3 linked regions of the Homo sapiens genome follow. The protein of the gene in region 1 interacts with the protein of each later gene in a biochemical or structural test. Each region holds a gene or a part of one and is shown in the gene's direction. Other genes may lie near its edges.

Evidence for each region.
Region 2: of the proteins of LYN (region 1) and CD72, one has a biochemical effect on the other in vitro, tested with the Homo sapiens proteins (one study listed by BioGRID).
Region 3: the proteins of LYN (region 1) and GAB3 form a complex in vitro, tested with the Homo sapiens proteins (one study listed by BioGRID).

Annotation. Positions count from the first base shown.
Region 1 is NC_000008.11:56,008,736-56,012,488, forward strand, and holds part of LYN (tyrosine-protein kinase Lyn), read left to right. Parts: intron 1-1,172; coding exon 1,173-1,375; 3' UTR 1,376-3,753. UniProt on the Homo sapiens protein: Non-receptor tyrosine-protein kinase that transmits signals from cell surface receptors and plays an important role in the regulation of innate and adaptive immune responses, hematopoiesis, responses to growth factors and cytokines, integrin signaling, but also responses to DNA damage and genotoxic agents.
Region 2 is NC_000009.12:35,611,765-35,615,517, reverse strand, and holds part of CD72 (B-cell differentiation antigen CD72), read left to right. Parts: intron 1-2,524; coding exon 2,525-2,670; intron 2,671-3,598; coding exon 3,599-3,714; intron 3,715-3,753. UniProt on the Homo sapiens protein: Co-receptor of B cell receptor (BCR) that plays both positive and negative roles on B-cell functions. Recognizes the Sm/ribonucleoprotein (RNP) self-antigen ligand, and coligation of CD72 and BCR inhibits BCR signaling.
Region 3 is NC_000023.11:154,674,616-154,678,097, reverse strand, and holds the end of GAB3 (GRB2-associated-binding protein 3), read left to right. Parts: 3' UTR 1-29; coding exon of another isoform or gene 30-107; 3' UTR 108-2,352; coding exon of another isoform or gene 2,353-2,358; 3' UTR 2,359-2,849; downstream 2,850-3,482.

The DNA of each region.
Region 1 (3,753 bases):
CCTTACTTCTCTCCTGGAGGTCAGGAATATGCAAATCCAGAGTCAGAGTGAGCTGTCACTCTGGCCAGGTACTGCAGATTGGAACAGTTAACTGCGTCTGTGAAGTAGCTCCACTTGAGACTATGATTGGGGTTCAGTTTTCCTCCTCAATTAATATCTTGCTCTTAAAAGACAGTGACATCCACAAGATATGTAGCACAAACTACAGACAAGTGTCCTTCAGATTAACTGAACCATCATTATTTTCCAAATTAATCCCTAAGTTTTTAACTATTTGGCAAGCATGTAACCAATTTGTTGGGCTGACTTAAGGGTGCTGACTTTAAGTAAATGAAAATACCAATTATTAAATGAAAAGCCAATTTTTGAAAAATGTCCGTATAAGATAATATGTGGTAAAATTATTTTTTTCATAAATATACTACAAGTTGAAGCTGAAAGCATGCTACCCTGCAAACATAATTAAAGTTGAGAGTTAGGATTAGATTTGGGTGATTTATTTGAAATGTGAGGCAAGTCCAATATCCTTTTGTTATTAAAGAGAACTTGGCTGTGGCTCCTACTTAACAAATTTTGGCAAACTGAATGCTGTCTTGATCCCCTCCATGCTAAATTTATTTATTGAGTTGCTTGCAGAAATTTCCTTAGCTTCTATATTAGTTGGCAAGGGCTGCCATAACAATACAACACACTGGGTAATTTAAACAACAGACGTTTATTTTTCCGGGGTTCTGGAGTTTCAAAGTCCAAGGTCAAGGTGCTAGCCAGGTTGATTTCTCCTGAGGCCTCTCTCCTGGACTTGTAGATGGCTGCCTCCTCCCTGTGTCTTCACATGGTCTTTCCCCTATACTAGTCTGTGTTCTAATCTCCTCTTATAAGGATACTAGTCATATTGGATTAAGACCTACCCAAATGGCCTCATTTTAACTTAGTTACCTCTATAAAGGCCTTATCTCTAAATATGGTGCTGTCAATTCTGAGGTGTACGCGGGGTTAGGACTTCAACCTAGGAATTTTGGGAGGATGCTGTTCAACCCCTAACAGCCTCAGTAAAGCTTGTTTCAATCATGGTTACAGGATGTGAGGAGCAAAAAGACCACTGCAGTGCTTGACCCTCTGCCAGGTTTCTAAACGGCATGGGTTTCTGTTCTTTTTGTTTTTTTCCACCCTAGGGAGAACTAATGCCGACGTGATGACCGCCCTGTCCCAGGGCTACAGGATGCCCCGTGTGGAGAACTGCCCAGATGAGCTCTATGACATTATGAAAATGTGCTGGAAAGAAAAGGCAGAAGAGAGACCAACGTTTGACTACTTACAGAGCGTCCTGGATGATTTCTACACAGCCACGGAAGGGCAATACCAGCAGCAGCCTTAGAGCACAGGGAGACCCGTCCATTTGGCAGGGGTGGCTGCCTCATTTAGAGAGGAAAAGTAACCATCACTGGTTGCACTTATGATTTCATGTGCGGGGATCATCTGCCGTGCCTGGATCCTGAAATAGAGGCTAAATTACTCAGGAAGAACACCCTCTAAATGGGAAAGTATTCTGTACTCTTAGATGGATTCTCCACTCAGTTGCAACTTGGACTTGTCCTCAGCAGCTGGTAATCTTGCTCTGCTTGACAACATCTGAGTGCAGCCGTTTGAGAAGAAAACATCTATTCTCTCCAAAAATGCACCCAACTAGCTCTATGTTTACAAATGGACATAGGACTCAAAGTTTCAGAGACCATTGCAATGAATCCCCAATAATTGCAGAACTAAACTCATTTATAAAGCTAAAATAACCGGATATATACATAGCATGACATTTCTTTGTGCTTTGGCTTACTTGTTTAAAAAAAAAAAAAAACTAATCCAACCTGTTAGATTTTGCAGGTGAAGTCAGCAGCTTAAAAATGTCTTTCCCAGATTTCAATGATTTTTTTCCCCCTACCTCCCAAAATCTGAGACTGTTAAAACATTTTTCTTCTATGAACACTGCTCAGACCTGCTAGACATGCCATAGGAGTGGCGTGCACATCTCTCTCTCTTCCAGCAGGAGGAGCCCGTGAGCACGCACAGCTGCCCTGTCTGCTCACCCGAAGGCACCGGGCTCACCTGGACCTCCCAGGAAAGGGAGAAGAGCCTCAGAAACTGCTCTGTGTTTAGAAGGAATATTTTTAAGAGTCCAGCTTTTTCATTTCCACAATTTCCTATATCCAGATTTGTTTTGACAATGTAGTTTGGAAGAACTAAGATTCTAATCTCTGAAGAACCTTATAGGGCCTTCTAAAACATAAGAGTTTCCTTTGTTGCTTCAAATATTTGAACATTATGTTAAAGATCAAGTATTAATTTTAGTTGTACTCTAGAAAGCTAAAGTGCCACATTCGGGGCTATTTTTATGATTCAGCAATCTTTTCTAAATTGTGTAGCATGTGTATGAGACTATTTATACCCAAGGATATGAAGGAACATAAGTGACTACAAGGCTCTAATAAGCCACGGTGGCAGGAGGTTCAAGCGGTTCTGTTCACTAAATTTTTCTCCTGTAAGCTTTGAATGGAAACTTCTGTATCACATGATGTGTTTCACTTATGCTGTTGTGTATATACCTAATATTTCTATTTTTGATTTTATTTTAATACACCTCGTCCAATAACATCTCAAGCTTTTTATTTGCATTTACATTTTCAGCTGTGGTCAGTGTAAAAATTGGTCATCAGCTGGGGGCGGGGTGGTTAGAAGTGATTCAACAGAGCTACATGCTTTAAACTTGCCCAAGTTCTACCTCCTTCCTTTGAACATTTCAGATTGGAGAACCAAGGAGTTGATTGCCTGAACACCTGAACATCCGTTTATGGGGGCCAGATAGAATTTGTTTTCAAATAGGCTTAACAGGCATCATTAAAATTTCATTCTGTGTGTTTTGTTTAGGCTTGAGGTGCTTAGAAGATGGGATAAAATATTCTACTTTTTTCTAAATTTTAACTTTGTTTCCTATGTGATTTTTTTAAATGTCCTTTCTAAAATATTCTAAAATTATTGATTCACAAGTGCCATGTTCAGAACTATAGAATATTACTGTTACATAATGTCTGCACAGCTGGTCCCTTGATTCAGTGGTAAGGTTTTTGTGTACACCCCCCTGCTTGCATTTTATTTCAGAACCACAAGTATTACCCAATATGTTACATGGAGAGGAACTATAAAGAATCCCTAAGGCAAAAAGAAGTCTCTAGAAAATGACTAGAGGTTTTTTTTTTAGCATAACAAATTTATTTAAAGAAAATTATTAAATTTATCTTCGCCTTGTTTTGCTTCTCCCAGTTCCTCCTCTTCTTGCCATTTTCCACTTGTCTTTCCCTCCCAATCAAGCCTGTGATCCTTACCTCCATGTGGGCCCTTCACCAGCTTGGGCCTCATCTCTGGTGTCCAGCATGTGTGGAAGTCACACGTTCCCTTGATGAACAGCACACACAGTCTCCTTACTTAGCTATAGGTTTCCAGCCTCCCTGTGACAGACAGGCATAATGAGGGGCTGAATAGGTGTTTGTAGCATTTTCGGGTATCCAGTGGTGTGCAAAATGGCTCATGTCATCACACCTCAGGTTATTGTAGAGAACTGGAAAGACAGAATCCATACTCCCTACCGCCAAGATTCTGACTTAGCTGTTGTGCAGCGGGAGATGTATGTCAGTCTATTTTAAAAGCTTCTCCAGTCAGCTAGACACAGTGGCTCATGCCTGTAATCTCAGCACTTTGGGAGGC
Region 2 (3,753 bases), on another chromosome or scaffold:
ATGGAGTGCAACCTGGTGGTGGGGCAAGGCAGTGAGGCGCTCAGCACTCACAGTGAGGTGGAGCTGGGAGTTGTGGTGTAGGGAACTAGGATGGGGTGTCCATTCATTTTGAAAGCAGGACCCCAGCCAGTAAGTGGAGATGGGGAAAGGGACACATAAAAGAGGCAAGGCTGTATCAAAACAGGCTGAGGGTCTAGGCAAGGTGCCACGCCTAAGGGGACTGGGGTGTTTTTGGGCTATGATCAGGTTTAGGCTCTGTCTAGCTTGGGGGTCATCTGGGTGATCTCCCCAGGCATAAGACAGCAAGATTATGTGCAGACACCCCTTGCCCTCATTTCCTTAACCTTACCCTCTGTGACCATCAGTTCCATGCCAGGGCTGCTCTTAGCAGCATGTTAGACCTCTACCTCCCAAATTGCTCTTCCGGCGAAAGGATGGTTTCAGACTTCCACTCTGATCACAGCTGCCCACCACTCCTGCAGGTTTTCCCCACACTTTTTTGATCTCATCAAGGCCTCCAATCTGCTGACTCCCCTTTTTCTCCCTTCCCATCAGTCCAGGCCTCCAATCAACTGATTCCCCTTTTTCTCTCTTCCCATCAGCTTCTCCTGTCCACACTTCTCTCCCTACCTAACATGGGTTTGGAGCCCATCACTTCAACTACTCACTTATTTTTTTAAATAGAGACAAGGTCTCACTATGTTTCCCTGGCCGGTATCGAACTCCTGGACTCAAGCGATCCTCCTGCCTCAGCCTCCCAAAGTGCTGAGATTACAGTCGTGAGCCACCGCACCTGGCTCACTCACTTCTTTGTTCCATTATCCTTCTAGTGTACCTGATGGGCAAAATTTGAACTCTGGATGAACCCAACTGCCCATGGTCAGCATCAAGGTGTGACAAATTGTGGAATCATTCTGCTCAGTGCCACTGAGACTCTAGTCTCTCAGCACTGCCTGGCAACCTTTGCAATGGTCAGCTTGCTCTCCATAGTAACTCCTTCTCCCTCACTTTCAGCAGATGTCCTCATCTTCCACTCTTTCAGAGAGGAATTCCCTTCACTTTCCATCACCAAGTCTATATATCCATATGGATTTTTGCCCATCCTCATCTTTTGCAAGGATATCTGCAACAGCTTTCTAAATGTTTTTCCTACTCACTCCTCTCCCTGCAGTCCATTCTTCATATTGGAGCCAGGGTAATCTTTTACAAACAAAAATCTGATCGTGTCACCCAATCTACAGCATTCCAGTTAATTGATTACATAAACAGTTATGGAATACATAACATATAATATGTTCTAGCACTGTGCCCAGGCACTTGGGATATAGCTAGTGAACAAAATTCCTCTATGTAAAACCCTACACTGACTTTCTCTTCCTCATAATATAAAAATAAAAATCCTTAACATGGCTTCCATCACTCCTGCCTACCTTTCAGTGTGCCACTTATCTCCTCACCCTCTTCCATTTGGCCATACAGATTTCTTTTTTTTTTTTTTTGAGGCGGAGTCTCGCTCTGTGAGACTGAAGTGCACTCCCAGGCTGGAGTGCAGTGGTGTGATCTGGGCTCACTGCAACCTCTGCCTCCTGGATTCAAGCTATCCTTTTGCCTCAGCCTCCCGAGTAACTGGGATTATAGGCATGCGCCATGGTGCCTGGGTATTTTTTGGTATTTTTAGTAGAGGTGGGGTTTCACCATGTTGACCAGGCTGGTCTTAAACTCCTGACTTCAGGTGATCCACCCCGCCTCGGCCTCCCAAAGTGCTGGGATTACAGAAGTGAGCCATTGTGCCCAGCAGGGATTTCTTTTTATTCCTTTAAGTTGCCATAGGACAGTAGCTCAAGGGAGTAGCAGGGTGGGGACATGAGCATATGTAGAGAGAAGAGAGGGAGCTAGTGGAGAGGGAATGATTTTTGAGTGATGAAGGTAGGACTGATGGAACAAAGCAATGGAGAGAGGTGGCCTGGGATCAGAAGTGCACATTGGGATGTAGGATGTTGAAGAAAGAGGGATATTTATTTCTTATGGATAGTCAGGAAAAGAAGAACAGAGAAGAGAAATTTTGAGGTGGAGAGGAGGGAAAAGGAGAGAGCTCAGTTTCTGCAAAACAGTACACAACATTTTCTGCTTGTAGGAAATTGGAGAGGGACGGAGGGGGCCAGTGCTGGAGGAGTGGAGGATGTGCAGTGAGGGGTGCTTTAGGGAGTGGAGGAGATGGGCCCAAGAGATGTTAGGTAAAGTGTCAGGGTGGACTGCAATTGTTCAGAAATTGGGGTAATAAAATCAGCCCTATTAAGACAGACCTCCCAGATTGCTAAGAAGTAATGTTGTTGAATGTTAAAGTCTTTTTACTAAGTAAGGACAGGTATGGTGTTTCCAGGGGATGCAAAAGAAAGATTGCAAAGATCATAGAAGTCCATGAAGGTGCTGAGATTAGCTCTGGGGGAATATTGTTAGCAAAAGATTGCTGAGTAGTCACTTTCATCCCAACTGTTGCTGCTATCACACTCTTTCTGCTTTTTAGACACCTGCTGTCCGTCGGGATGGATAATGCATCAGAAAAGCTGCTTTTACATCTCACTTACTTCAAAAAATTGGCAGGAGAGCCAAAAACAATGTGAAACTCTGTCTTCCAAGCTGGCCACATTCAGTGAAATTTATCCACAATCAGTAAGCATATCCTTACTCACAGACTGCAGTGGGTACTATTAGGTAAAGGGACATATGTCATCAAGTCAGGAATGGCAGTGCACACATGGCTGGGGTGGCCATTCCTTTTCCATGGAAGAAACTGAGAATCATAATACTCTTGACCTCTGAGCTTGGAAACAACCTCTGCATCTTCTCAGCACAGTGGTCCAGGCAGCCCCTAGTAACTGATTAGAGTTGGCATGAGAATGGAAACTTAACCATATCTACATTTTTTTTTTTTTGAGACAGAGTCTCACTCTGTCACCCAGGCTGGAGTGCACTTGCATAATCTCAGCTCACTGCAACCTCCGCCTCCTGGGTTCATGCAATTCTCCCGTCTCAGCCTCCTGAGTAGCTGGGACTACAGTCACATGCCACCACGCCCAGCTAATTTTTGTATTTTTAATAGAGTCGGGGTTTCACCATATTGGTCAGGCTGGTCTCTAACTCCTGGCCTCAGGTGATCCACCTGCTTCAGTCTCCCAAAGTGCTGGGATTATAGGTGTGAACCACTGCGCCCGGCCTCTACTTTAATGTGTATCTCATCTCAGCTTGCTGGTCAGCTCCCTGGGCTGCTTGACAGGTTCCTGGACTCTTGTGGCCTCTCAGGCAGAGAGGTCCCACACCTGGTGGGCTGGATTGTAGGGATTAGTTCCTTGGGGCCAGAACAGCACACAGAATGACTCCCCTCCAAAGGCTGGCAGAGATTCTTACTCAGCTGGAAGGCAAATTTAGCAGTGAGCCTGCATCTGCAGGGTGGCACTTGATGGATTCAGGGACAAGTTACCAAAGAGCTGTCATATATACAGCCCCCTTGCCAAAGCTGAGGCCTCCCTAGGGTGTGCATTTTCTTCCATATTTCTCATCACTCTCCATGTATCTCTGGTCTCTCTGAATCTCCCCTCAGCACTCTTACTACTTCTTAAATTCACTGTTGCCAAATGGTGGTTCAGGGAATTCATATTGGACTGGCCTCAGCTCTAACAAGGATTGGAAGTTGACTGATGATACACAACGCACTAGGTAAGTTTGTTAGGACTTCTGGGTATTTTCAACTCCATA
Region 3 (3,482 bases), on another chromosome or scaffold:
CACTAAAAACACACTGATGGTCAACACAGGTCAAAACCAAGAGAGAATGTGTAGTTTTCAAGGTCTTGGCCAGAACCTTTAGGAAAGAAGACCTGTTTATACATTGAAGGAAGAAAAGAAGGAAGCAGTTGCCTTCCGGAGGGGGCTCTGAGAGAATCTAGCCTCCCCTCTGTCCTATTGGAGCAAAGATTGGAGTGAGTGTTGCCACCAACAGGATTTTATCGTTTGACTCCAATACCTGAAATTCTGACTTCTCTCCTGTGCTTCAATGAGAATGATAAATTATCCTAGCAAAGGGGCCTCTGGAGACCATCTTGTTCCAGCCTCTGAAGACAGTTGAGGAGATCAAGCCCAGCAATGGTGGCAGAATCTTACTCCACAGACTTCAGCAGACTAGTCATTTCAATACCCAAAGAAAGACAAGTGACAGGGGCAATGGATCTCAGGCTCTGAGATAAGTATATCAGATGACACTGGTGGCTCTAAGGATATTGCAATTAAGCAGCTACCTGTAGCCAGGTATTCTGCTGCTCTTGGCCTTTTCCCACGCATCGTCTCGTGTCTTCTCCGAAAGACCTTGGAAGATAGGCCTGGAAGAGACTGTTGATGCCACTTTGAAGAAAAGAACACTGAGAACTAGAGGAGGGAACACTTTGCCCAAGATTACTCACAAAGCCAAGACCCAGAGTCCAGCTTAGAGAATAGAGTTGTTCAGGCTGCCAATTGCAAGCTCATTCCTCTACCTCATACTTCCTCTGAGGATTTTGACAAAATGGATTAATTGGGTGAGCCTTGGAGACATGTGGGAAACACCTGCAGACACAAAATGAGTAGTCATCCTGTCTCCCTTTCAATAGGGATCTGAACAGGTGTTTTGATACTTGAAAGATGTGCATGTCAAGTGAGGGTTTCTTTCTGCGATGTTCAACTGGAACTCTCCCATCAGTAGTTACAATTAGAAATACCTACTGATGGTTAGTCTGAAGGCCATTCTCATGGTCACCTATACAGTGTGTTTCCCTGTGAGCTAGCAGACACAATGACCAGGAAAAAACCTATGAATTCCATTCTTAGGTTTCCCAGCCAATTGCTCCCTTCTGCTTTAGAAGTGACTAGGTACTGAGAGTACAAACACTCCCACTTTATAATGAAGGCGTCATGTCACCCCTTCCTTTACAGGTCCTGGGGTCCAGGAGACCCAGAATGAAGGTGTCAGTTGGGCATGAAGTGTTATTTAGTGTCCATTCTTGATCCTTCTGAGCACCTACAGCTGGAAACTAAGCAGATACTGGTCCTGCATTCTGACTGAGATTGTGTCTTCTTTATGAGGATAGATCAAATTGGCAGTCAGGCCCATGATAGTCAGTGCAGTTGGGGCAGTTGTAGACTTTGCTACAGGATTTCAGGGTTTCCAATCACCCCACAGGTAAGTGAATGCCAAAGTCTTCTTTTTTCAGACCATACAAGAAGTCATTTTGATTTTCAAAGAAGCCGTTTTGATTTTCAAAGAAGCAGGTTCTGGTGACATTATTTTCTTCCTTGGACAAAGTGGGGGGAAATTTCTAAGTATTTTAACTGAGTTCAGGGTCCTTAGTGAGCCTGGACAGAGCAAGGAGAGGGCTCCCCACTCCCTAAGCCCCACAGCCAGCTCTGCATCACCACACACAGCCAGAGCCTGTGAGGAGCTGCCTTCTTCCCCATGTGACTTGCAAAGAGTCTCAGGCAAGAAACCAGGGCTTCAAACTGCTAGTTCCCATGGAGGGTAGTTCCCTCGTGTGGAGCACTTGTGTTAGGATCACTGATTATCTGACAAAGGCTGGTGCAGAAAAAAAATTGTAGGCCCAAGTGTCAAGAACCACACCAGATTGGAGATAGAAAAGAATAGCTGAAATTATGTCAGTAGTGAAATGTCACTCCATTGACCCACCGAAAAAAGAAAAGAAATCTGTTTCTACCAAACATTTCCAGAAACGTATTTATAGCATGAAGAAACACACATGGGTAGTGTGACCTGTTTGGATGTGATTACTTAAAAATGGAATGCTCTGAATAGGCACTCTCTACATTAAAGGTATGGAAGGCGATAGGGGTCAGAATTTTAAAAATTTAATTTTGAAAAAGGTGACTCACCCCTCATTTCCAGAGTGTAGGCAATTATGTCCTGCTTTGATAAAACTGCTAGAGGATGGCTATGCAAAAGCATAACGATTCAAGGAAACAAAGTACAGGTAGTTTTTGAGCTGACAGCAGCAAAGGCACCATAAGTCAAAATATTGGTTTTGGTGGAGATGATCGATGTGTGTGTGTGAGAGAGAGCTATGTTTCTAACCAAGGGCCTAATGTTTGTTACAGAAATGATCCCAGAGACCTACAAGATGTGGGAATCAGCATAACAGGGCAATGCAGCAATTAACCCCACATCGTTTTCTGTAGTTCCTTTTTGTTTCATTTTCTTCTGTCTCACCTCGTTAGAAAATTCCTCCCAGTCAGGGGTCGTCCAGTGCAGGACGGGGGACCCAAGGGTCTCAAGCCTGCAAGTCCAGAAGGTGACAAACCCAGGAGCACTGGGAGTTAAGCTTTCCTTGGGGAGGGAAGAGCCTTGATGTCCAGCACACAGCCTGGCTATAAAGACACGAAGCGACCTACCCACTGTACAGTCCACTTCACAGGATCAGCTGAATCATGACCTTTAAAAGTTCCGAGTTGAAACTGAAGGCTCTCCTCAGACCTGGCTTTTTCCTCAGTCCCTGTTCATACCATCTCTGCACCCACAATCACACTGATTTTTCAAATTCATTTTGTTTTTGCTGTTTCATTTCTGGCATTAATAAAAGTCTTATAAGGAGAAATCGTGACTTAAGTTCTTTTTTATTTAACTGATGACATCCAATATAAATAAGGAACATGTTTTGAAAGCGGAATATTTGAAAATGGACTTCATAACCACTTTTACGTTGAAGTACAACAAACTTAACCTGATTCACGTGCATGTTATTTCACTGCAAACATTTGAGCAGGTGTCTGTAATCAGTACTGCTTCGGCTCAGCCAAACCATATCTTGTCATTTTCTTAATTTCTTCGTTGGAAACTCGCTTTGATAATTGACACTAAAATCAACTGCTCTCCCTGACACCATGTATAACATGACCTTCGTGATTACTTGCATGAGAAGGTAACTGCCCTACGCCTGCCTGCCCCAGCAGGCATCTCTTTTGCCACCACCTCCCTTTTCTCCATAGCTGAGTCTCCCAGATGCCCTGGGTGCTGGGTCAGTGGCATCTCGAGGCCGTGAAACAAGGAAAGGACAAAGAAAGTAGGGAGGGGGCGGGCTCAGGTTTGGGGGAAACAGGCCAAAGGCATAGAGAGAACAGGCCTGGGGGATCCTGGGACCTAGAGAAAGGACAAAAAGCCACATTAAATCCCTCACCCCTGGTGAAGTATGAGGCCAATCAAGAACACTTTTTCCCTACACACACACTCT